Linked DNA regions of Homo sapiens: all the other regions are linked to region 3. Evidence: fine-mapped expression QTL. A gene starts in region 3. Each other region holds a variant in brackets. All regions are shown on one strand. Distances are between the middles of the regions. Region 1 overlaps PPP4R3B (protein phosphatase 4 regulatory subunit 3B). Region 2 overlaps PNPT1 (polyribonucleotide nucleotidyltransferase 1). Region 3 holds the start of PPP4R3B (protein phosphatase 4 regulatory subunit 3B). Region 4 overlaps PNPT1 (polyribonucleotide nucleotidyltransferase 1).

What was found. PIP is the estimated chance that this variant, and not a neighbour inherited with it, causes the effect. A credible set is the group of variants that fine-mapping cannot tell apart.
Region 1: its variant is the best candidate, but not a certain one, in a credible set for the expression of PPP4R3B in whole blood (TOPMed, PIP 0.57).
Region 2: its variant is the best candidate, but not a certain one, in a credible set for the expression of PPP4R3B in putamen (GTEx, PIP 0.63).
Region 4: its variant is the best candidate, but not a certain one, in a credible set for the expression of PPP4R3B in whole blood (INTERVAL, PIP 0.57).

What each region holds. Positions count from the first base shown.
Region 1 is chr2:55,549,172-55,554,810 of GRCh38, forward strand. It overlaps PPP4R3B (protein phosphatase 4 regulatory subunit 3B), which reads right to left. Exons shown (of 17, transcript NM_001122964.3): 17 at 1-835. The coding sequence ends at 740. Among named protein-coding and RNA genes, the nearest start is that of CFAP36, 32 kb to the left of the region's middle. The variant GTAGT/G (reference allele first, on the strand shown) is at 2,650.
Region 2 is chr2:55,638,717-55,644,355 of GRCh38, forward strand. PNPT1 (polyribonucleotide nucleotidyltransferase 1) reads right to left here. Exons shown (of 28, transcript NM_033109.5): 24 at 4,603-4,709; 25 at 4,442-4,497; 26 at 1,911-1,989. Among named protein-coding and RNA genes, the nearest start is that of PPP4R3B-DT, 24 kb to the left of the region's middle. The variant C/G (reference allele first, on the strand shown) is at 3,120.
Region 3 is chr2:55,614,250-55,619,888 of GRCh38, forward strand. PPP4R3B (protein phosphatase 4 regulatory subunit 3B) reads right to left here and starts at 3,373. Exons shown (of 17, transcript NM_001122964.3): 1 at 2,895-3,373; 2 at 1,202-1,257. The coding sequence starts at 3,036. PPP4R3B-DT (PPP4R3B divergent transcript) reads left to right here and starts at 3,681. Exons shown (of 3, transcript NR_186624.1): 1 at 3,681-4,133. RefSeq lists enhancers at 2,329-3,255, 3,256-4,180, 3,274-3,673, 3,694-3,743.
Region 4 is chr2:55,645,724-55,651,362 of GRCh38, forward strand. PNPT1 (polyribonucleotide nucleotidyltransferase 1) reads right to left here. Exons shown (of 28, transcript NM_033109.5): 19 at 1,624-1,730; 20 at 692-763; 21 at 536-599. Among named protein-coding and RNA genes, the nearest start is that of PPP4R3B-DT, 31 kb to the left of the region's middle. RefSeq lists an enhancer at 4,336-4,948. The variant T/A (reference allele first, on the strand shown) is at 2,667.

The DNA.
Region 1 (5,639 bases), 65 kb before region 3:
AGAGAAAATCATTTTGGAATACTACTGTACTGATTCTTGGCCTTCGTTGTCTCTAAAAGTGCTGATTTTAACATTATCTTAAAACTGTCCAGTTTGAATTGAGCTTGTTTTCATCAATATACATATTGAAAATTCCTGGTGTAGAAAACTCAACATGTGCTGAATACGGGGTGTACTTCCCTTCAACTACCTAAAAGGCTGAACTTTTGTTAAATCTTAAAGAAATGGTCCCAACAGCTTAACTTCATTTTTTTAATGATAGTTGAATGTGTTTTCCATAAAAATTTCTTTTAAAAAGAGGCAACTGATTAAAACAACAACATGGCCAGCACCATTATACAAGTAATGTTATTGAGTTTACAACTGAAGTTCTGTAAAATTGTTTCTAGATCGACACCCCGAGGAGCAACCCTGCATTATTATATCAACCTTTTCCCCTCCCCTAAACCGTCCCCAAACCTGTGACTTTTCCTTGCTGAGAAGCTGTCTCCCAGGTTCTGGTTACTAATGTTTGTTTTGACAGCCTAAAAGGCAAACCCCTTAATTACTAGCAAGCAATCAAGTTCCTGGGAAGCCTGATTTTTATTAGAACTAAACTCTCTTAGCTGATATACTGTCTTTTGCTACTCCTTGTATATTTTATAAGTTCAATTGAGAAAGCTTTCTGATTCAGATTTTCAGCTCACTGAACAGTTGCAGCATTGTAAGACCACATGTTGAGGGTCCCCTAATAAATATTTTATGAGCCAAGACGAGGTCTTTTCCTGGGGGACGATTCTTCTTCTTCATCTTCCTCTTCATCATCTGGATAATCCACTAAGCCAACCAAACTTCCCTATTGAAGAATTTAAAAATTTTTTCTTTAAACATATATAACAAAAAAGAGCTTTTAGTACAAATACAATCACTTGTAAAAATATCAGAAATCGTTTTTCTAAATCATATCAGAAATTAACATTTGAATTTGATAAAGGAACTGCTTGAAATTATGAACGTTTGAGTAGTAATTGGTAGCACTTGCAGTAACCCTTAACTTTTCTATCTGGTTCTTGGATTATTAATGATACTTCAAAACTCAATTCTGCAAAATTTTACTGTGGGAAAATGTCTACTTTTCCAAACAGTAGGGATAACAATTAATAACATTTGGAAGCTGGAAAGGACATTGGAGATGAACTGGTTCATTTCTCTAATTTCATTACCACAAGAAAGCCCCTTGTAGTCTTTGTTCATCTTGTGTATATTTCATCACTAAGTACACATTATTTTCATTGTGCTTTTGAAGTACAGCTTAAATGGCTGGAGATAAACACATGAAATGATTCCTATAAAATAATAAGTAAAACATTTAGGGCTAGCTCGCTGACCAAAAGAACAATAAGGATGAGGTAATTCGTGGTCTTGGCCTTTGATGAGTAACAGACCTCTGTGAAAATCCTAGAAAAACTCTGGGTACTCTCCAGAAAATTACACATCCACAGGGTTTCATTCATTTTGAGCCAATCCCATGAAAACTTATGTCCTATAGGTTAAGAGGGCTACTGTAAACACTGTATTTAGTTCAAACCCTTCAGACCTCTAGGAGATAAAACAAATACAACTGAAGTAACTCATACTTCATACCTGAAGTACTGAGGTATCGGGTTTTACCAGAATGTAACCAAATCAGTATAATATTAACCAACCAAAAAAAGGCCTCTGGGCAGCTAGAAACAGTTATCAGAAAGACTTATATACCTGTCTGAGAATCTGTTTCTCAACTTAATCACACACACATCTTAAGTCTGGATATGCAAGAAGCAATATGGCTAAATTGTTAAAAATAGGCTAACTGTAGGTCTGATGTCAAATTCTAATGACACCACGTTTTATGTAAAAAAAAACAAAAACAAAAACAAAACTTTGGGGCTGGGCTTATGCCTGTAATCCCAGCACTTTGGGAGATCGAGGCGGATGGGTCACCTGAGAGATAATGAGTTCAAAACCAGCCTGGCCAACATAGCAAAACCCTATCTCTACCAAAAATACAAAAATTAGCCTGGCGTGATGGCAGGCACCTGTAGTCCCAGCTACTCGGGAGGCTGAGGGACGAGCATCTCTTGAACCCAGGAGGTGGAGATTGCACCACTGCACTCTAGCCTGGGCAACAGAGCAAGACTCCATCTCAAAACAAAAAGAAAAACAAAAAAAAACACAAAACCTTGGGCAAGTGGTTTAATACCTCTGCCTCAGTTTGTCTGTAAAATTGGTATAGTAGTATTTAGGCCTCAGTGAACTATTTTGAAATTTAAATTGATGGCCAGGCGCAGTGGCTCATGCCTGTAATCCTAGCATTTTGGGAGGCCAAGGTAGGTGGATCACCTGAGGTCAGGAGTTGGAGTCCAGCCTGACCAACATGGTGAAACCCCATCTCTACTAAAAATAAAAAAATTAGCCAGGAGTGGTGGCGCATGCCTGTAATCCCAGCTGCTTCAGAGGCTGAGGCAGGAGAATTGCTTGAACCCGGGAGGCAGAGGCTGCAGTGAGCCAAGATTGCACCACTGCACTCCAGCCTGGGCAACAAGAGCAAGACTCCATCTCAAAAATAAATAAATAAATAAATAAATAGATAACCAAACATCTAAAGCACTTCAGCACAGTGCTTCGTAT[GTAGT/G]TAGTGTTCAATAAGTGCTATTAGCTGCTATTACTACTATCATTTTTCTATTATTTTGTTTCTAAGCCAAACAAATTGGAAGAGAGGAAAAACAAGAAATAATTCTGGTATAAAAAGGCACCAATCTGATAATCAAAAAGATGACAGCAAAGTTACAAAGTTTTAATTATGCTTAGTATTACATATCATAACGTACAAACATTTGTATTCCAAATGGTTAACACTTAATTGTTTCTGCCCAAGATTAATAAATTGTCTGAAAAACTCACTTATACAATTTGAGTTTTACTTATATTATCTCTGCAAACTAACATACATTTAAAACATGTTTACAATAAAAATAATAAAAATGCAAAATATGAAATGTTGGAAGTAAAAAGGCCTGTAATCTAGAGATGCACTTTGTGAAGCTGATTCCATACTTTTAATATGTATCTAGAAATGTACTGTTTTAAAATAGCAGATTGAAATTATATTTACTCTTTTACAATCATGTTCATATAAAAAAAAGCTTTCGATGTCAGTACATAAAGTTCCATTTCATTGTTTTAAACCCTTGCATTCCATGGTATGAATATATATATATTTTTTAAGAGTCTTGCTCTGTCGCCTGAGCTAGAGTACAGTTGTGTGATCTCAGTTCACTGCAACCTCTGTCTCCAGGGTGCAAGCGATTCCTGTGCCTCAGCCACCCAAGTAGCTTGGGCTACATGCATGCACCACCATGCCTGGCTAACTTTTGTATTTTTAGTAGAGATGGGGTTTCACCATGTTGGCCAGGCTGGCCTTGAACTCCTGGCCTCAAGTGATCTGCCCACCTCAGACTCCCAAAGCCGAGCCACCATGCTCGGCTTCATCATATACTTTAATTCCTGAATTTCTGGTTGGACATTTGGGTTGTTTTTGCAGGGTATTTAGGTAAGAAATTTAAAAAGTGAATACCAGCAAAGAAAACAGGAGAAGAGAGAACAGCAGTTTAGAGTTGCCAAGGCATTTTTGGAAAAGAGAAATCAGAGGCAAGGCAAGTCATACAACAGGAAGAAGCCAAGAACTAAGTATTTGCAGAGGGATACAGAAACGAGAAACTGATTTGTCTTAAGAAAACCCCAGAAAGAAGCTAGGCAGTAAAGGCACCAAAATATTGGGGAAAGCAGGGAAAACAGTTTAATTATAGTAAAACAGACAACTGGGTCATTGATTCTACACCTCTGACAGCCAGGAGATTTCTGTTCCTCCACCATCACCAACTACAGAGAATTCTACATAGAAAATGACTCTATAAAGAATAAATTCTATAGAGAATGTAATGAACTTTACAGAGCAAAGGACCATATACTTCATGACTTTAGGCAAAGTAAAGGGCATGGGTAAGGCCAGGCTGAAAATGAAAGAATAAATTTAAATTTTGTATACTGAGCAGACACGCCTACCCCACAATAAGCTTTGCTATGTAGGCACTCAGAACACTAACAACCATTCTTATACTTACAAGGTGTAAGAGACTAGCTTTGTCTGTAAAAATTAGATGGCTTCACAGGAGTATGGGGGGAACTACAAACAACTAACACCTCCCGAAAAAAGCAGGGCACTACTCTCTAAGTCCATACCATAAAGTCAAGTTTTTAAAGTGTATAATTTTCACACACCATAAACTCACCATTTCAGAGCATATAATTCAGTGGTTTTAGTATATTCACAAGTTACGTAATCACCACCAATTCCAGAACATTTCCACCATTTCACCCACCAAAAAAAGTCCCCATAAACAGTCCTCATTCCCCCACCACCCCCCACACCACCCAGCTCTTGGCAACCACTAACCTACTTTGTTTCTGCGGATTTGCTTATTCTGGACAGTTCATATAAATGGAATCATACAATATGTGGTCTTTTGTGACTGGTTTACTTCAATTACCACAATGTTTTCAAAGTTAATCTATGCTTAGCATATCAGGACTTCATTCTTTTTTATGGCCAAATAATATCCACTGTATGAATATGCTACATTTTGTGTATCCATTCATCAGCTGAGAGACATTTGGGTTATTCTTACTTTTTGGCTATTATGAAAAATACTGCTATTAACATTCATATACAAGTTTTACAGTGGACACATGTTTTCAATTTTCTTACAATATATACCTAGGAAATGAGGTAGCTGGGTCATATGGTAACTCTGGGTCATATGGTACTCTGACTTTTTGGGGAACCGCCAGACTGTACTCCAAAGCTGCTACACCATTTTATTTTTATATATTTATTTTTTGAGACATTGTCTTAGAGACTCGAAAGTGCAGTGATGTGATCTCGGCTTATTGCAACCTCTGCCCGCTGGGCTCAAGTGATACTCCCACCTCAGCCTCCCGAATAGCTGGGACCACAGGCATGTGCCACCATGTCCAGCTAATTTTTGTAGACGGGGTTTTGCCATTTTGCCCAGGCTGGTCTCGAGCTCCTGGGCTCAAGCGATGCTCCTGCCTCGGCCTCCCAAAATGCTGGGATTACAGGCATAAGCCTATGCACCAGGCCTGTTGTGCTATTTTATATTCTCACTAGCAATGGGTGTCACAATTTACATTCTTACCAACACTTGTTTTTGTGCATCTTTTTTATTATAGCTATCCTAGAGGATGTGAAATGCTATCATATTGTGATTTTGACTTGCATTTCCCTTACTAATGATGCTAAACATCTTTCCACATGTTTATATGGGCCACTTGTGTATCTTCTTTGCAGAAATGTCTGTTAAAATCCTTTGTCCATTTTAAAACGGGGTTGTCATGCTGAGGTGTAAGAGTTCTTTATATATTCTGGATACCAGTTACTTATCAGATATATCATTTACAAATATTTCCTCCCATTTTGTGGATTGTCTTTTCAATTTATGGTAGTATCCTTTGGAGTACAAAATTTTTGAATTTTGAATGAGTCCAATTTATTATTTTTCTTTTGTCACTTGAGCTATTTGTGTCATATCTAAGAAATC
Region 2 (5,639 bases), 24 kb after region 3:
GTGTATGTGTACGGCATTTATAAAAATGGACCCTCTGTGCTTACTGTATATCTTAAGGACATCTTTTTTTTTTTTTGAGATGGAGTCTCGCTCTGTCATCCGGGCTGGAGTACAGTAGCATGATATCCGCTCACTGCAACCTCTTCCTCCCAGGTTCAAGAGATTCTCCTGCCTCAGCCTCCAGAGTAGCTGGGATTACAGGTGCACGCCATCATGCCCAGCTAATTTTTTCTATGTTTAGTAGACACGGGGGTTTGCCATGTTGGCCATGCTGGTCTCAAACTCCTGACCTAAAGTGATCCGTCCACCTTGGCCTCCCAAAGTGCTGGGCTTACAGGCGTGAGCCACTGCACCTGGCCCAAGGACATCTTTTCATATCAATAAATTAAGAATTACCGTTAAGTTTCAAACTATATAGTTTATTTAAACAATCACCTAAAGACAATAAATTGCTTTAAATTCCAGTGTTGCAAATGTTAATGACTGATGAATATAGGAGAAAGATATATGAGGGTTTAGTGTATCATTCTTTCAACTTCTTTGTACATTAAAAACTTTTCAAAATAATAAGGTGAAAAAAAATAAGTTGCAGTGTAGCACAAATCATGAATTCATCTACTCTAATTATCCTCTCCAAATAAAATCCTACAATGTCTAGGTCCATAGACATTTACCAAACACCCTCTAAAAAGTTTGTCCCAATTCACACCCCCATCAACAGTGTATGAAAATGTCCATCTTTTCTCTTATACACACTGAGAATTTTAAACTATCTGAAAGTTAAAACTGATATCTTAATTTCATTTGCATTTCAAAAATTGCTGTTGATATTAAATATCTTGGTTGGCTTTTTATAAAAATAATTTGTTCATGTTCTTTACTTATTTTTCTATTGATATTCATCATTCTTACGGATTTATAAAAGCCCTTTGTAAATTAAGCTTCTGCATATAAGCATTTTTACTTTAGGTTGCTGATTATCTCTTAACCTTATTGAAATTTTTGCCATATAATTAAAAAATTATGGGGTCAAATTTTGTAAGTTTATTTACTTTTTTGGCTTTGATATCATGTTGAGGAGTTCTCCACTACTAATCTTATTAAAACATCCAATTTTCTTCTAGTAAACCCTCCTGCCCCAACAAGATTATCTTTTCCTACCACCTTTTTTAAAAAGCACATTTAGCTCTTTGATCCAGACAGGATTTAGGTATAAAAATGAGTAGAGATCCTGTTTTAAGATAACCAGCTGTACCAATATAATTTATTAAATAATCTTTATTCACTGACTATAATACAACTTCTAGCGTATATTATAATCCCATGTATATTATTTCTAGTTTTTGTTTTCTTGTTGCATGGATTATCTATTTCTGGGCCGGTAATATACTATTTTATTGTCTATGGCTTTATAATATATTTTAATATATGGTAAAACAGACACTCTTTTTTTTTTGAGACAAAGTCTCACTCTGTCGCCAGACTGGAGTGCAGTGGCACAATCTTGGCTCACCGCATCCTCCGCCTCCCGGGTTCAAGCGATTCTCCTTCCTCAGCCTCCCGAGTAGCTAAGACTACATGCGCACGCCACCACGCCCAGCTAATTTTTGTATTTTTAGTACACACTGGGTTTCACCATGTTGGTCAGGATGGTCTCCATTTCTTGACCTTGTGATTCACCCGCCTCGGACTTCCAGAGTGCTGGGATTACAGGCATGAGCCACCCTGCCCAGCCAATTTTTCTTTATGCTAAACAATGTAAAACTTTTTGCCAGCAGCATCTCTGCCACTTGTTTTCTCTGTTTAGGCTAGTAGTAGGCAAAGTGTATAATTCTTACCAACCTAGGTAATTTCAATACAGTGTTTCAAGGCAGTTATAAAAATAATAACAATAACATCTGTCTTTTTACCTTTCGTTGATCAAGTTGTGTGTTATGAAGCAGTACCGCAGTCATATTTGGATATAATTTTACCATTACACCAGTATCTCTACAAAAAAATAAATAGTAAGCCTGGTTAAAATAATAAGTATCTGTATATCCATTGACAAATAAAACATTGTTTTCATATGAGGAAAAAGTAAAAAACGAAAAGAAACAATTCTAGCACGTTTTTAGAACTATAAAAAGTATACTTTTCAACTGAAAATATACCCTATAAATAAATATGTGTGAATCAAAGAATGAAGAAAAGATAAAGAAAAAACATGCAATAGAAAAGCTTTTAGAGCCAGGTGCGGTGGCTCACACCTGTAATCCCAGCACTTTGGGAGGCCAAGGTGAGCAGATCACGAGGTCAAGAGATCAACTCCACCCTGGCCAACATGGTGAAACCCCGTCTCTACTAAAAATATAAAAATTAGCTGGGCCTGGTGGCGCGCACCTGTAATCCCAGCTACTCAGGAGGGTGAGGCAGGAGAATTGTTTGAACCCGAAAGGCGGAGGTGGCAGTGAGCCGAGATCGTGCCACTACACTCCAACCTGGCAACAGAGTGAGACTCCGTCTCAACAAAAAAAACTTTTAGAATATATGTTCTTCTGTATTTCTCTTAACAATTTCCAAAAACATTTTTTTTTTTTTTTTTTTTTGCCACCCAGGCTGGAGTGCAGTGGTGCCATCTGGGCTCACTGCAACCTCCGCCTCCCAGGTTCAAGTCATTCTCATGCCTCAGTCTCCCAAGCAGCTGGGATTACAGGCATGTGCCACCATGACCAGCTAATTTTTGTATTTTTAGTAGAGATGGGGTTTCACGAAGTTGGCCAGGCTGGTCTCGATTTTCCAAAAATTTTCGAAATGACATTAAATATTTTAAAAATAGTATAGAATCTCATATGATTAACCTGTAAGGTAAGGATTTAAGGAAGGTGGTCAGGTAAAATGGAATACTTATTTCATTAAAAAACTAATCTTCCCTTTTTTCTCTAATCTATGAAAATAAGCCATCCCATTTCTTATTTTTCACCTGCAATATTAAACAAATTATCTCCTTGCCTTTTATTTTATTTCAAATAGCTTTGAACATTTTTGCTACATTTGATAATTTCCTTTTTCTTAAAAGAGGGATTTTCTTATCCTAAAAAAACAAGCTCTTCTAGCTGGTCAAAAAAAATGCTTTGAGA[C/G]TGAAATTGGCTTTTTTTTTTTTTGAGATGGAGTCTCGCTCTGTCGCCCAGGCTGGAGTGCAGTGGTGCGATCTCATCTCACTGCAACCTCTGCCTCCCGGCTTCAAGCGATTCTCCTGCCTCAGCCTCCTGAGTAGCTGGGATTACAGGCATGCACCACCATGCCTGGCTAACTTTTGTATTTTTAGTAGACATGGGGTTTCACCATGTTGGTCAGGCTGCTCTCGAACCCCCCACTTCCTGATCCACCTGCCTTGGCCTCCCAAAGAGCTGGGATTACAGGCGTGAGCCACCATGCACAGCCGAAATTGGATTTAAAAATATGTGCCAATTAAGCATTCAGATATGTTTAAAATAAGCCATCAAAAGAAAAAAAAAGAAATAAAGAAATATTGCTAAGTCTATTTTGGGCCTATTTAATATTTACTGGGAAAATTAATTTGGGGTTTCACCAATTACTAGTAGAAAATTTGGTTAAAGAATTCAGTTGGCCGGGCGCGGTGGCTCAAGCCTGTAATCCCAGTACTTTGGGAGGCCGAGGGGGGCGGATCACAAGGTCAGGAGATCGAGACCATCCTGGCTAACAAGGTAAAACCCCGTCTCTACTAAAAATACAAAAAATAATTAGCTAGGCGTGGTGGCGGGCACCTGCAGTCCCAGCTACCGGGGAGGATGAGGCAGAATGGCGTGAACCCGGGAGGCAGAGCTTGCAGTGAGCTGAGATCGCACCACTGCACTCCAGCCTGGGTGACAGAGCGAGACTCTGTCCCAAAAAAAAAAAAAAAAAAAAAAAAGAATTCAGTTAAGAGAACCTATCATAATTAGAACCACAGAACTGCTACTTTAATTTTATAAAATGATATAGAAAACAAAATATACTATACCTTAAAAAATAATGATTATATGGCAATTGGCATGTAATCTAAACACCTTATGATTTCAAAGTAAATGTAAAATTAAATTGGGATTATAATAGGAATCTGTTAAAAACCAAAACAGGGCTGGGCACGGTGGCTCATGCCTGTAATCCTGGCACTTTGGGAGGCTGAGGCAGGAGGATGGCTTGAGGCCAGGAGTTTAAGACCAACCTGGGCAACATAGTGAGACCATGTCTTTACAAAAAAATTAAAAAATCAGCCACGTGTGGTGGTGTGTGCTTGTAGTCCTAAATAGGAGGCTGAGGTGGGAGAACTGCCTGATCCCAGGAGTTCAAGGCAGCTGTGAGGTACAATGGCACCACTGTATCCCACTGTGGGTGGCAGGGTGAGACCCTGTCTCTAAAGAAAGGAAAATGCTCAGCATAGTATATTACTTGATATTACCTGATTTCAGTTATTGTGGCGGTATATACTGCTCCAAATTCTAATTGCTGCTCCTGCTGTAAGTGCAAAATAAGCCATAAGATTCATAAAGAAAACATCAACAAAAAGTAGAAAAAACAAATATAGCTATATGATACGTAATTAATATGATCTATACTTACATCATCCTTGCAGATTTCAGTAATGAAGTCTCTTGCCTCATGCATAGCACTGGGTGTTGGTGCAAATACAGAAAACGTTTCTTCATCCACCTGACTAATAGTTACACCTTTTAAAAACAAAATGTAACATATTAAAGTTAACTTGGCTGGGCATAGTGGGTCACATCTGTAATCCCAGCACTCTGGGGGGCTGAGGTGGGAGGATCACTTGAGCTCAGGAGTTCAAGGCCAGCCTGGGCAACATAGGGAGAGCCTGTTACTACAAAAAATAAATTCAAAAATTAGCTGGACCTGGTAGCATGTGCCCACCTACTTGGGACTCACAGTCGGGAGGATCACTTGATCCCAGGGGTCAAGGCTGGAGTTAGCTGTGATTGTGTACTGCACTCCAGTCTGGGTGACAGAGCAAGGCCCCATCTCAAAAAAAAAAAAAGTTAACTTGCTCATTCCAGTGGAAACTCGTCTTAAAAATAGATGTGAGAATAGGAGGGACCTATTAGTAGCTGGGTGGAGTTATGCTGTATTTAATCATTACTTTAGGAATGAAGGAATTCATTCATCAACAAATACACTCTGCATACTTGCTAGGTACCTGGCATTATACTAGGTAGGCCCTGGGGATACAATGGTGAGCCAATATGCTTGATTTCTTGAAATTCACCATCTAGTGAAATCAAATATATCTATACAAATTTTGGAGAGTCTGGTTCTGCTCTCTTAATTACGAGTAGAAACTATAATAGAACCCTTTCCTTACTTTTTTTCTTTCTCCCGCTTACTCTTACGAGGGGTGAATAAATGAATAAGGGACAAAATCACATCAGTTTCTCAGTGTTAGCAAATGGCTAAGGTGACAGTGCTTCTCACTCTCTTGCAGTAACCTCAAACCTTGAAGTACGAGGTAATTCAAACATTGCTTCAGGAAAAATAAATTAAAGCTTTTTTTTATATACTCTTTAAATAAAAGAGTTAAAATAAAACTAAGTGAAAGTAGCAGAATAAAAAGAAATAACTAAGTAATAATTCCTCTAAAGTTA
Region 3 (5,639 bases):
AAGTGGGCACTGACGCTGTAAATGTAATCCTAAAATAATTTATCTTCCTTCAAAAATCTCTGCCATCGTGACTTTACATACCACACACAAAAAAGAATACCTGGAAATAATTCAAATGTATAACAACAAGTGTATGTCATACATAAGAATACTATACAGAGTTTAAAAAGAAAACTAGATCTACATTGTTAACATGAACGAATATTCAAAATGAATGTGTGAAAAATGCAAGCTGCAGAATACATGTAAGAGTATGACATCCACTGTGTAAAGTTTAAAAACACACAACAGACTACATATTATTTATGGATACATACATATGCAGAAAAGGTATAAAAGCATGTACACAAAGAATACACATCAACTTCAGAATAGTGGTTACCTATGTAGGGGATGGAGAATGTAAACAACGGGATGGATACAAACAAGCTTTAACTCTATCCATAATGTTCAATATTACAAAAATATTTGAAACAAATATGGCGTAACATTAACATTGTTAAATCTGGTGGTGTTACAGTAGACACCGATTATTCTCTGTACTTTTCAATTTTAATATATTTCATAATAAAAACAAAAACATTCACAGAATAAAAAAGATTGAATCACTGCTACCATTTTCAGATTAATCAGGCGTGCTAAAATACAATACACATTTTCTTTCCCAAATAAGACAATATTAACAGAAGATGTTACATACTTGGTAATGTACATTTTTATAAAGTATCCATTGATTACTATATTAAAAATACACAACAATTAAAGAGCAGGATTTAATGCTTCTACTTCAAAACCTCTACCTTTACTTGAGTCAAAGGATTTAATTTCACACCACAAACAGGCTTTCCTTGCTTTAAGAGTATCCCTTTGAATTTTGTTCTATGTCATTTCCTTTAAACGTGACTCAGAATAAAAGGTTTCATGTACAAGGTATAGAAGAGACTTGGCTAACTACAGTTAAATAATACTAATAAATACATCTTAGAATAAACCGACAGTGGCTCAATCCAAAAATGATAATTATCACCAGTACAAAAACTTTTTTTCAGTCTGAAACTTTTAACCTGCAAGAGAAATACACATGATCTTTGTTTACCAAACATGTTTTTTTCTTGTCAGGAAAGCTTTCCCACCTTTGTCAGATTAATACTTCCTTGATCACAGATGAAGTCTTTCAAATTAAAGATAAACAACTACTTGCCTGTTGTTTCTGATATGCAGTATTTGGATTTATCTTTGATTCCAAGAGTAGTGATCCTGAAAGATAAAAAATAATACATCATAAGTCTCAAATGATAAAACCCTGAATAAAAATTAGAATACACATTAAAGCCGGGCGCAGTGGCTCACGTCTGTAATCCTAGCACTTTGGGAGGCGGGCAGATCACGAGGTCAAGAGATCCAGACCATTCCAGCCAACATGGTGAAACCGTCTCTACTAAAAATACAAAAATTAGCTGGGCGTGGTGGCGCATGCCTGTAGTCCCAGGTACACGGGAGGGTGGGGCAGGAGAATCGCTTGAGAGAGAGGGAGAGGAGGCAGAGGTTGCAGTAGCCCAGATCGCGCCATTGAACTCCAGCCTGGCAACAGAGCAAGACTCTGTCTCCAAAAAAAAAAAAAAAAAAAAAAAAATACACATTTAAACCCCGCCCCCCGCCCCCGCAAACTTTTCAAGTCTTTTTACCGAGTTGGACATCTTAATAAAATGTATTCGAATTCACATTTTCTCTCCAAATCTAGGCTTCACATTTAATCTAAAATATTTCACCCTATTCCCATACACCCTTAAAGGAAAAATTAATCTAAAACCAACAATCAAACCAAGGAATGAGGAGACTAGATGACTATTAAAATTTTATTGAAATAAAAATTTTAAGGTCTAAATGACCACTTCAAGCCATTCGTTTTAACAAAAGTTGTTTTATTGCATTCCCAGTTTAACAAATAATGCAAATTACAAAACAAAAACATCATGACAGGGATTAAATACTTAGTATAGAAATTACAGTGCTGCATTTATCCTTTCCTCATTAAGAACAAAAGAACACCTTCTGTAGAAGTGATGACTATTTAAAATAAAAGGGAACAAGCAAGAATACAAAATATGTCAAGACTAAACCTAAGATTATTTTTCTAACTGCCTATATCAGTTGTTCAAATCAAGTCCAGATTATACTATAAAAGGCATTTTAATTACGGCTCTACATTTTGTAATTTAAAATACTTCACATGACTACAATAAACCAAAGAACACAGCAGTTTACAACCTGCTTTGGTGTCCCAACTTGCTTAGATTGTAAGGCATTCACTTTCTCATAGCGCCTTCTACAAAGGCAGCCCGAAGAAATGCAGACTACAGATGTATGTGCTTGTGTGTCCATGTATCGTGGCAACAGTCAGCAATACAGCCAGGAAAACGTGCCTTTCGGTTTTCCCCAGCACCTGTCGACTGTGGCACCTGGGGCCCGTTGGTACAATTTTTTTTTTTTAAAAACACTCGGAAAGAAAAGTTTCCCTAAACCGTTTGTACTAGACGTATAATGGATAAGTAAATAAAGGGGGAGGAAGGTGTCAGCTCCTAGGGCGACATCAGTACCTAGTCTCTCACTACTTCCTCCCTTCTCTCTCACACTCTCCCCTCTTCAAAAGAGGAGGGACTGGAAAGGAAGGAGTCCAATCCTTAAGAGAGATGGGAGAAGGACAGAGAGTCTCGGTCTCCGAGGATAAGTCCAGTCAAAAGTACAGTACTTTGTTTTTGCCGTACACAAGAGCCAGTTCAGAACCAACGCGCTGTCCCGAAGGAGTAGCAACGGTAACGGGCCCAGGGCCCTAAACCCAAGCTGTGCCCCAACCAGAGGCACTATCCCCTATTCTACAGTTCCGATAACCTTACCGTCGGACTCTGCCCGAACCAGCAGCGACATCCCCTTGAGCTCCTCCACGTAAGTGGAGGAGACGTGCCCGGTGCCTCGGTCGTCCCATTGCCGGTCTTCGTTCAGGGTATAGACCTTCACTCGCCGCCGCGTATCCGACATGGTGGCTGCTGTCTCCACCGCTCTAGCCGCCGCCTCCTCGCTTACCTCGTCCGCGCTCCTCACTCTTAGGAGACGGTAAAGGCAGTAGTGGCGGTGGCGGCGGCGGCGGCTTCGGAGAGGCCCGAATTCACCATGGCTCCAAAGGTTCAGCCGCGAGAAGGGGTGACAAGAGCCACTGAGGCCTCTCCGCCCGGAGGCCCCGTTACCTCTCACTTCACCCGCGCATACACCCACTCTCCCGTCTCTTTGCCCCCCAGGGCTCGCTTGCTCTCCCGCCGCCGCGGTAACTACTACAGATCCGCCATCTTGTAACCCGACTCTCTCTGCCTTTCTCTTCCTCCTCCAGCAGGCTCGCACGGGCTGTCCTAGCAGGGGCTACGGCGGCCGACAAGTCCCATGAGCAGCACCTCCGCTTCTGCACGCGCTTCCCAGGCCGGAATGCTCGGCGCTCTCGCGAGGAGGGGTACCGACTGGGGCGGGAGTACTTCGGCGAGACTTCCTCCTCTTTCGGCCCGACTTCCTCCTCTTTCGGCCCCGCCTCTTGGCGCGGGGTCGCAATTGGGCGGGAGGTTCTCGCGATCTCCCCGTCCACGCCTGCGCCGCGAGAGGCCGCTAGGTGGAAGGGGACTTCGGTTCCGCACGTCGTCATGTTGTTGGATGGCACCAGTATGTGACGTTCCTAGGAACTTAGCTCTGAGGAAAAAACAAAGCAAACCGGGGAAGTACGTAGCCTTGAACCGGAGTAACCAGGGACAGAAAGGAAGGAAAAGGGTTTCATACCTTCACGGAACGACGCTCACTTCGTCCGCCTGAGGAGGAAAAATAAGTTTAAACCTTTCTGTGAAAAAGAACGTGGAGCCCTTTCTGCCGAATGGAAACCCGCTAAACCCCGTTATGGAGTCTGCTACAATTAAGCATCTAACCAGGAATTGTCTATGGACACAACTCTCCAGGCAATTCATGCAGAAAGTGTGTTGACGATTTCCTGTTTCTTGCAGAGCGCTTCACCGTTAAGGCTCTTAGTAGCTGGCGATTGTAAAGCACATTTTCCGCTTCATGAAAATACAGTGCTCTTCTTGTGTTTGTAACCTTGGAAAGTAAGTCTGCTATGATAAGTTTAGGGAAGTGGCGGGGAGCTACTTTCCTAACATATCTGTGATTGTTTTGATACTTCTCAGTTTCTCGCGGGCATTTCCTGCGTTCTCTATAGGGCTCTCTTGCACTGAATAAGGAAAGGAGGAATTCTCTCTGCATTGAGGCTATTATCGCACATTGTGCGGTGGATATAGTCACGCGCTGGGTCGTAGTAGCGTGTCGTTTATTTCAGTCCAGCTCACTCTTGGTAGAATCCCTTTATTCGTTTTGTTGTTTTTGATAGTCTCTCTCTGCTTCCCAGGCTAGAGTGCAATGGCGCTATCTCGACTCACTGTAGCCTCCGCCTTGAGGGCTCAAGCGATCCTCTCACCTCAGCCTCCCGAGTAGCTGGGACCGTAGACGCCTGCTCCCCATCCCCGCTATATTCGTTCTTTAATACAGTCTCTCAGCTTGTTCAGCTGCCACTTCTGTGCAGCTCATTAGCCTGATCGGTGAAAACTAGGCGAGACGCGCACACTGACCCTGCAGTGCATCTTGGGAGTTGTAGTCATAACTAATCAATGGTCTTGTTAAAACGTGCTTATGTTTTGACCAGATCGCTTAAGTGTGGACACCCTTCAGCAGTACACTACAACGTGGGTCAGTGTACAGAACACATGCTGATAGAAATAATTTCAAAATCTGGATTCATAGTTTTTTTTTTTAATCTAGAGACCTCAGAAAATGTACTTGAAGAAAATCATCATAATATAATACATAACAATAGAGCCAATTAATTGATGTGATGAAAGTGGACAAAATGTATTTTGACCTCAGAGAAAATAACATTTCTGTCTTGGAAGAGTCAGAGAATGCTTCACACAATTTTTGAGCCTGATGTTAGACTCTCCAGCCTTCTGTCCAAGCCTCACCCTTTGGTTACTCCCCAGGAAGACTGAACTTGGGAAGAGGATTGTGCAGACCCTGGAGTCAGGCTTGGCGTTTGGGATAGGGAATACTAGAGTGCCCACAGCATGGTCTGGAAAAGGGAAAGTGGGCTGCAGGTGGCTACAGTCCCATGATTCCATGGATTTCAGACCCCTCCAAAGCACAGGGCTCAGTGCTTATCCAAGTCTGAGGGCCCCCCATAACCACATCTTCCCCAGCAGATGTTCTTTGCTTCAGGCAGTCATCAAAGTTCCACTTCAAAGAGTTGCTAACCAAATAAGCCCACAATCTTCCTTTTTTGTTGTTTTGAATAAGTAATGCCTTTACACATATGAAATTAAAAAGAGAGGCCGGGCATGGTGGCTCACGCCTGTAATCCCAGCACTTTGGGAGGGCGAGGTGGGCAGATTGCCCGAGGTCAGGAGATCCAGACCAGCCAGGCCAACGTGGTGAAACCCTGTCTCTGCTAAAAATACAAAAATCAGCTGGGCGTGGTGGTGGGGGCCTGTAATCCCAGCTACTTGGGAGGCCGAGGTAGGAGAATCGCTTCAACCTGGGAGGCAGAGGTTGCAGTGAGCCAA
Region 4 (5,639 bases), 31 kb after region 3:
CTCACTACGTTGCCCAGGCTGGTCTTGAACTCCTGGGGCTCAAGCAATCTTCCTGCCTTGGCCTCCCAAAGTGCTAGGATGAGCCACCATGCCATGCCTGGCTACTTAGTACTTCTTTTTTTTTGAGACATTTTCCCTCTGTCACCCAGGCTGGCGCGCAATGGCATGATCTCGGCTCACTGTAACCTCTGCCTCCTGGGCTCAAGCGATTCTCTTGTCTCAGCCTCCTGAGTAGCTGGGATTACAGGTATGCACCACCATGCCCGGCTAATTTTTGTACTTTTAGTAGAGACAGGGTTTCACCATGTTGGCCAGGCTGGTCTCGAACTCCTGACCTGAAGTGATCTGCCTGCCTCGGCCTCTCAAAGTGCTGGGATTACAGACATGAGCCACCACACCTGGCCAGTACTTCTTGATCTAAGTTATATGAAATTCCACTTTTTAAAGCAATATTTTATAATAAGCCTAATGAGAACTATAGTTCCCATTAGCAAAGTGGAAAAGAATGAAGGGAGAATCAAGCACACTAGCTCACCTGAAGCTTGTTGAATAGCCTCCATCACAATTTTTATTGGTATTCCAGGTAATTTAATATCAGCCTAATATGGAAAAGTCAAACAATTATATAAATATTGACTCATGGCATTATTTAAATGTTACAAAAATGAAACAAAATGGGTTTTAAAAATACCTGTAATGCAGTTATTCCTTTATTAGTGCCAGCTATTTTGAAGTCCATGTCACCATTGTAATCTTCAATTCCCTTCAGGAATTTAAAAAGTTATGACATAGTTTTAAACAAAAACAAAAGTCAACATATTCACTGTAGAAACATTTCAAAAAACAGCTTTAGAAGTAAACCATATCCTAAGTCCAAACACAAAGCAATGTTTTCTACATTAACTACCACTTCCAATTTGTGACTTTTTAAGCTACAATTATTTTCACCAGAAACATCATTTTATTTTTAGATCATTCCTTTCCCTCATAAATGCCTGAGAATGAATTTATGCTCATCCTAAAGTGAGTCATTATGAATACTTACACTGTGTAAGTATTACTGCAATACTTAAGGGTAAGTATTACTATTTTTTTAAAGTAATCATTTTATTTTATTTTATTTTACTTATTTTGAGACACAGTCTTGCTCTGTTGCCCAGGATGGAGTGCAGTGGCACGATCTTGGCTCACTGCAACCTCTGCCTCCCGGGTTCAAGCAATTCTGCCTCAGCCTGCCAAGTAGATGGGATTACAGGTGTGTGCCACCATGCCCAGGCTAATTTTTGTATTTTTAGTAGAGATGGAGTTTTGCCACATTAGCCAGACTGGTCTGGAACTCCTGACTTCCCAAAGTGCTGGGATTACAGGCATGAGTCACTGTGCCTGGCCTATTACTATTAATATAATATCTATTTTAAATTCATATCCTATAAGATACAAGGTGAACATGCAGAGGAGGAAGGGAAGAACAAGTACCTGTTCTTCAAATACTAGCATTCTTCTAAGCATACGCTAGGTGCAAAGTACATATAGTCTTCACCATTATTTGTTTTTATCTTTTAATTTTTATTTATTTATTTTTAGTCTTCATTATTAAATATTTGAAACCGAGAATATACTTGCCAAAATATCTGTCAGCAAACGATAATCTTCTATTTCACCCTTCTCAGGATCGGTTTTGGTGACCAATCCTATTGCTACGCCTGCAACAGCAGATGAAATTGGAACCCCTATAATTGGGAAAAAGAACAACTGTGGGTAATGTGTACATGAGCCTAAAACAAATATTTATCTATCAATTTTTTTTTTTTTTTGAGAGGGAGTCTCGGTCTGTTGCCCAGACTGGAGTGCAGTGGCATGATCTTGGCTCACTGTAGCCTCTGCTTCCTGGGTTCAAGCAATCCTCCCACCTCAGCCTCCCCTATAGCTGGGATTATAGGCACCCGCCAACACGCCTAGCTAATTTGCTTGTATTTTTAGTGGAGATGGGGTTTCAACCATGTTGGCCCTGTTGGTCTTGAACTCCTGACCTCAGGTGATCTGCCAGCCTCAGCCTCCCAAAGCGCTGGGATTACAAGCGTGAGCCACCGCGCCCAGCAGACATTTACTTTTAATGTAAGTGGATATTGTTGCCTAAATTGACAATCACCGAAGCTGAGTTGGAAGTCTTAAGAGGTCATCTGACTACTTCGTTTGTTTTTGAACATATAATAAAGTTCCCTAAAACAATGTAAACAAGTACTATATCCAGCAAAAACTTCTCTAACAATAGCAAACTTTATAACTTTTAAATTATCCGTTGGTTTGCTTTTTTGCTTCAGGTGTCTTATTTTCTTTTTGTTGGAAAGTAAGCATCTATTTGGTAAATTCTTCCAGCCTGAACTCCTCAGTTTACCTCCCCATGGCAGCTAACATTAGTGTATCCTCCTAGAAAATTTCTGTGCACAAGTATAAATGTAAATATAATCTTTTGTTTTCTTTACTCGTGGCGGCAGACTGTATGCATTTACTGTTCTGCACCTTGCCTTTTTCACTTAATAACATGTCTTGGATATTGACACATACCACCACACAAAGCTCTACTTTATTCCTTTGAATAGTTTTAGTACTCCCTGTATGTTTTACAAGTCACACACAGAAGTGCGATTGCTGAGTCAAAAGGTATG[T/A]GCATTTACGTTTGTTAGACTGTCAAACTGCCTTCTAAAGACATAGCATTTTAAACTTTTACCAGTGGTGTAAGAAGGTATATGCTACTCTATATTCTTATTAATTCTTGTCAAATCTTTTGATTTTTCTCAATTTAAAGTGTAAAAAATGGTTATTTTAAATCTGACTTGTTTTTTATGACTGAGGTTGAAAACTATTTCATGTTCATAAACCTATTTATATGTCTTATTTTGAGAACTCCCTGTTCATGGCCTTCAACACTTTTCTACTTGGTTGGCAGTCTTTTTATTACTGATTTTCTTTCAATATGGACAGAGCTTTATTAAAATGTAAAGATAAAATATTATGTTTAATAACATATAAATAAAATATTTTATTTCCTAGTTCGTTGACTTTGCTTATGGTCATTAGTTTTCTGTGTAGGATTTTTAGTTTACGTAATCATGGTTTCTGGGTTTTGCTTAGCAGAGCTTTTCTTCTCCAAGATTTTGATAAAACCTACCATCTTTCATTTGTTTAAAAATGTTTAAGTTTTGATCACTTGGAATTTACTTTGGTATAAAGGAGTGTGGATCTCATTTCATTTTCTCTAAGCAACCTCATCTATACTTACGATTTTAACCACCATCTATAATGTTGATGACTTAAAAATCTATCCCTCCTGTCCAGCTATCTGTGCCAAACCCTGGACCTGTATTAGTAAACTCCCTGTCAGACATCTCCAGCTAAATGTCCCCAAAGCACCTTAAATATATATTCAAAATTGAGCCAGGCCCAGTGGCTCATGCTTGTAATCCCAACGCTTTGGCAGGCCAAGATGGGAGGATCACTTGAACTCAGGAATTTGAGACCAGCCTGGGCAATATATTGAGACCTCATCTCTATAAATAATAATAATGATGATGATGAAAGAAATACATATATGTTCAAAATTGAATCACTGTCAAAAAATCCTTTTCCTCCTGCATTCTTTGGTTGAAAGCAACTAAGACACTCATGCCAGAATCAACATTTCTTTCCTCATTTCCTATATCCCATCAAGTCACAAAGATCTGTTTATTTTTTTAGAAAGCTGTCCTTTACCCTAAATATTAAAATACCTATTGTAACTTTTTAGTCTGAGTCCATATCATTTCTTGCCCTGGCAACAATCTCCCTGTCTGGCTTCCCAGATTTTACTTTCTCTCTTTGCTTCTTAGTCTCTCCCATCTCATTCCGCAGGGCTATTCATCACTTAAGCTGGGAAAAACTGTTTGGAAAAAACAAAAGCAGATTCAAATCATGCCACTGTTTTCCATAAAATCCTTCAAGTTCCCCATTGCCTACTTTCAGGAAATTTTTGTACATATTCTGTGGTCAAATAAATTTGGAAAAATATTACATGTCCTATTCCTAGAGAGTCAGTATTCGGATTAGCTTATTAAAGTCTATTTAATCCATATTAAATAAACCTGCTTAACCCTGCTGAAACTTAACTTTAGAACAGAATAAACTTTTTCATGGTATACAATAATCAATGTCCTGTGGAACACTATTCCATGGAATACTGAATTGGAAAAATGCTGGCTTTAAGTCCAAACTCCTTAGCGTAACAATAACCTTCAGATTGTACAATGTGTGGCTTTCTTGAGGCACTGCCTCTCGAGTCCCTACCTCAAACTCCACTTCAAATAGGAGATTTTATGTTGGGGAAAGAAGGATTGGTAAAGAATTCTTACTTAAAAAAAATCCTGCCCTCTCTCCCTCTCTCCACCTCTACCTCTACCTCTACCTCTACCTCTACCCACGGTCTCCCTCTCCCTCTCTCCATGGTTTCCCTCTGATGCCGAGCTGAAGCTGGACGGTACTGCTGCCTGATTCTCCTGCCTCAGCCTGCCGACTGCCTGCGATTGCAGGCGCGCGCCGCCACGCCTGACTGGTTTTCGTATTTTTTTGGTGGAGACGGGGTTTCGCTGTGTTGGCTGGGCTGGTCTCCAGCTCCTAACTGCGAGTGATCCGCTAGCCTCGGCATCCTGAGGTGCCGGGATTGCAGACGGAGTCTCGTTCACTCCATGCTCAATGGTGCCCAGGCTGGAGTGCAGTGGCGTGATCTCAGCTCGCTACAACCTTCACCTCCCAGCAGCCTGCCTTGGCCTCCCAAAGTGCCGAGATTGCAGCCTCTGCCCGGCCGCCACCCCGTCTAGGAAGTGAGGAGCGCCTCTTCCCGGCCGCCATCCCATCTGGGAAGTGAGGAGCGTCTCTGCCCGGCCGCCCATCGTCTGAGATGTGGGGAGCACCTCTGCCCTGCCGCCCCGTCCGGGATGTGAGGAGCGTCTCTGCCCGGCCGCCCCGTCTGAGAAGTGAGGAGACCCTCCGCCCGGCAACCGCCCAGTCTGAGAAGTGAGGAGCCCCTCCGCCCGGCAGCCGCGCCGTCTGAGAAGTGAGAAGCCCCTCCGCCCAGCAGCCACCCCGTCTGGGAAGTGAGGAGCGTCTCTGCCCGGCAGCCACCTCGTCCGGCAGGGAGGTGGGGGGGTCAGCCCCCCGCCCGGCCAGCCGCCCCGTCCGGGAGGGAGGTGGGGGGATCAGCCCCCCGCCCGGCCAGCCGCCCCGTCCGGGAGGTGAGGGGCGCCTCTGCCCGGCCGCCCCTACTGGGAAGTGAGGAGCCCCTCTGCCTGGCCGGCCGCCCCGTCCAGGAGGGAGGTGGGGGGGTCAGCCCCCCCGCCCAGCCAGCCGCCCCGTCCGGGAGGTGAGGGGCGCCTCTGCCCGGCCGCCCCTACTGGGAAGTGAGGAGCCCCTCTGCCCGGCCAGCCGCCCCGTCTGGGAGGTGAGGGGCGCCTCTGCCCGGCCGCCCCTACTGGGAAGTGAGGAGCCCCTCTGCCCGGCCACCACCCCGTCTGGGAGGTGTGCCCAACAGCTCATTGAGAACGGGCCATGATGACAATGGCGGTTTTGTGGAATAGAAAGGGGGGAAAGGTGGGGAAAAGATTGAGAAA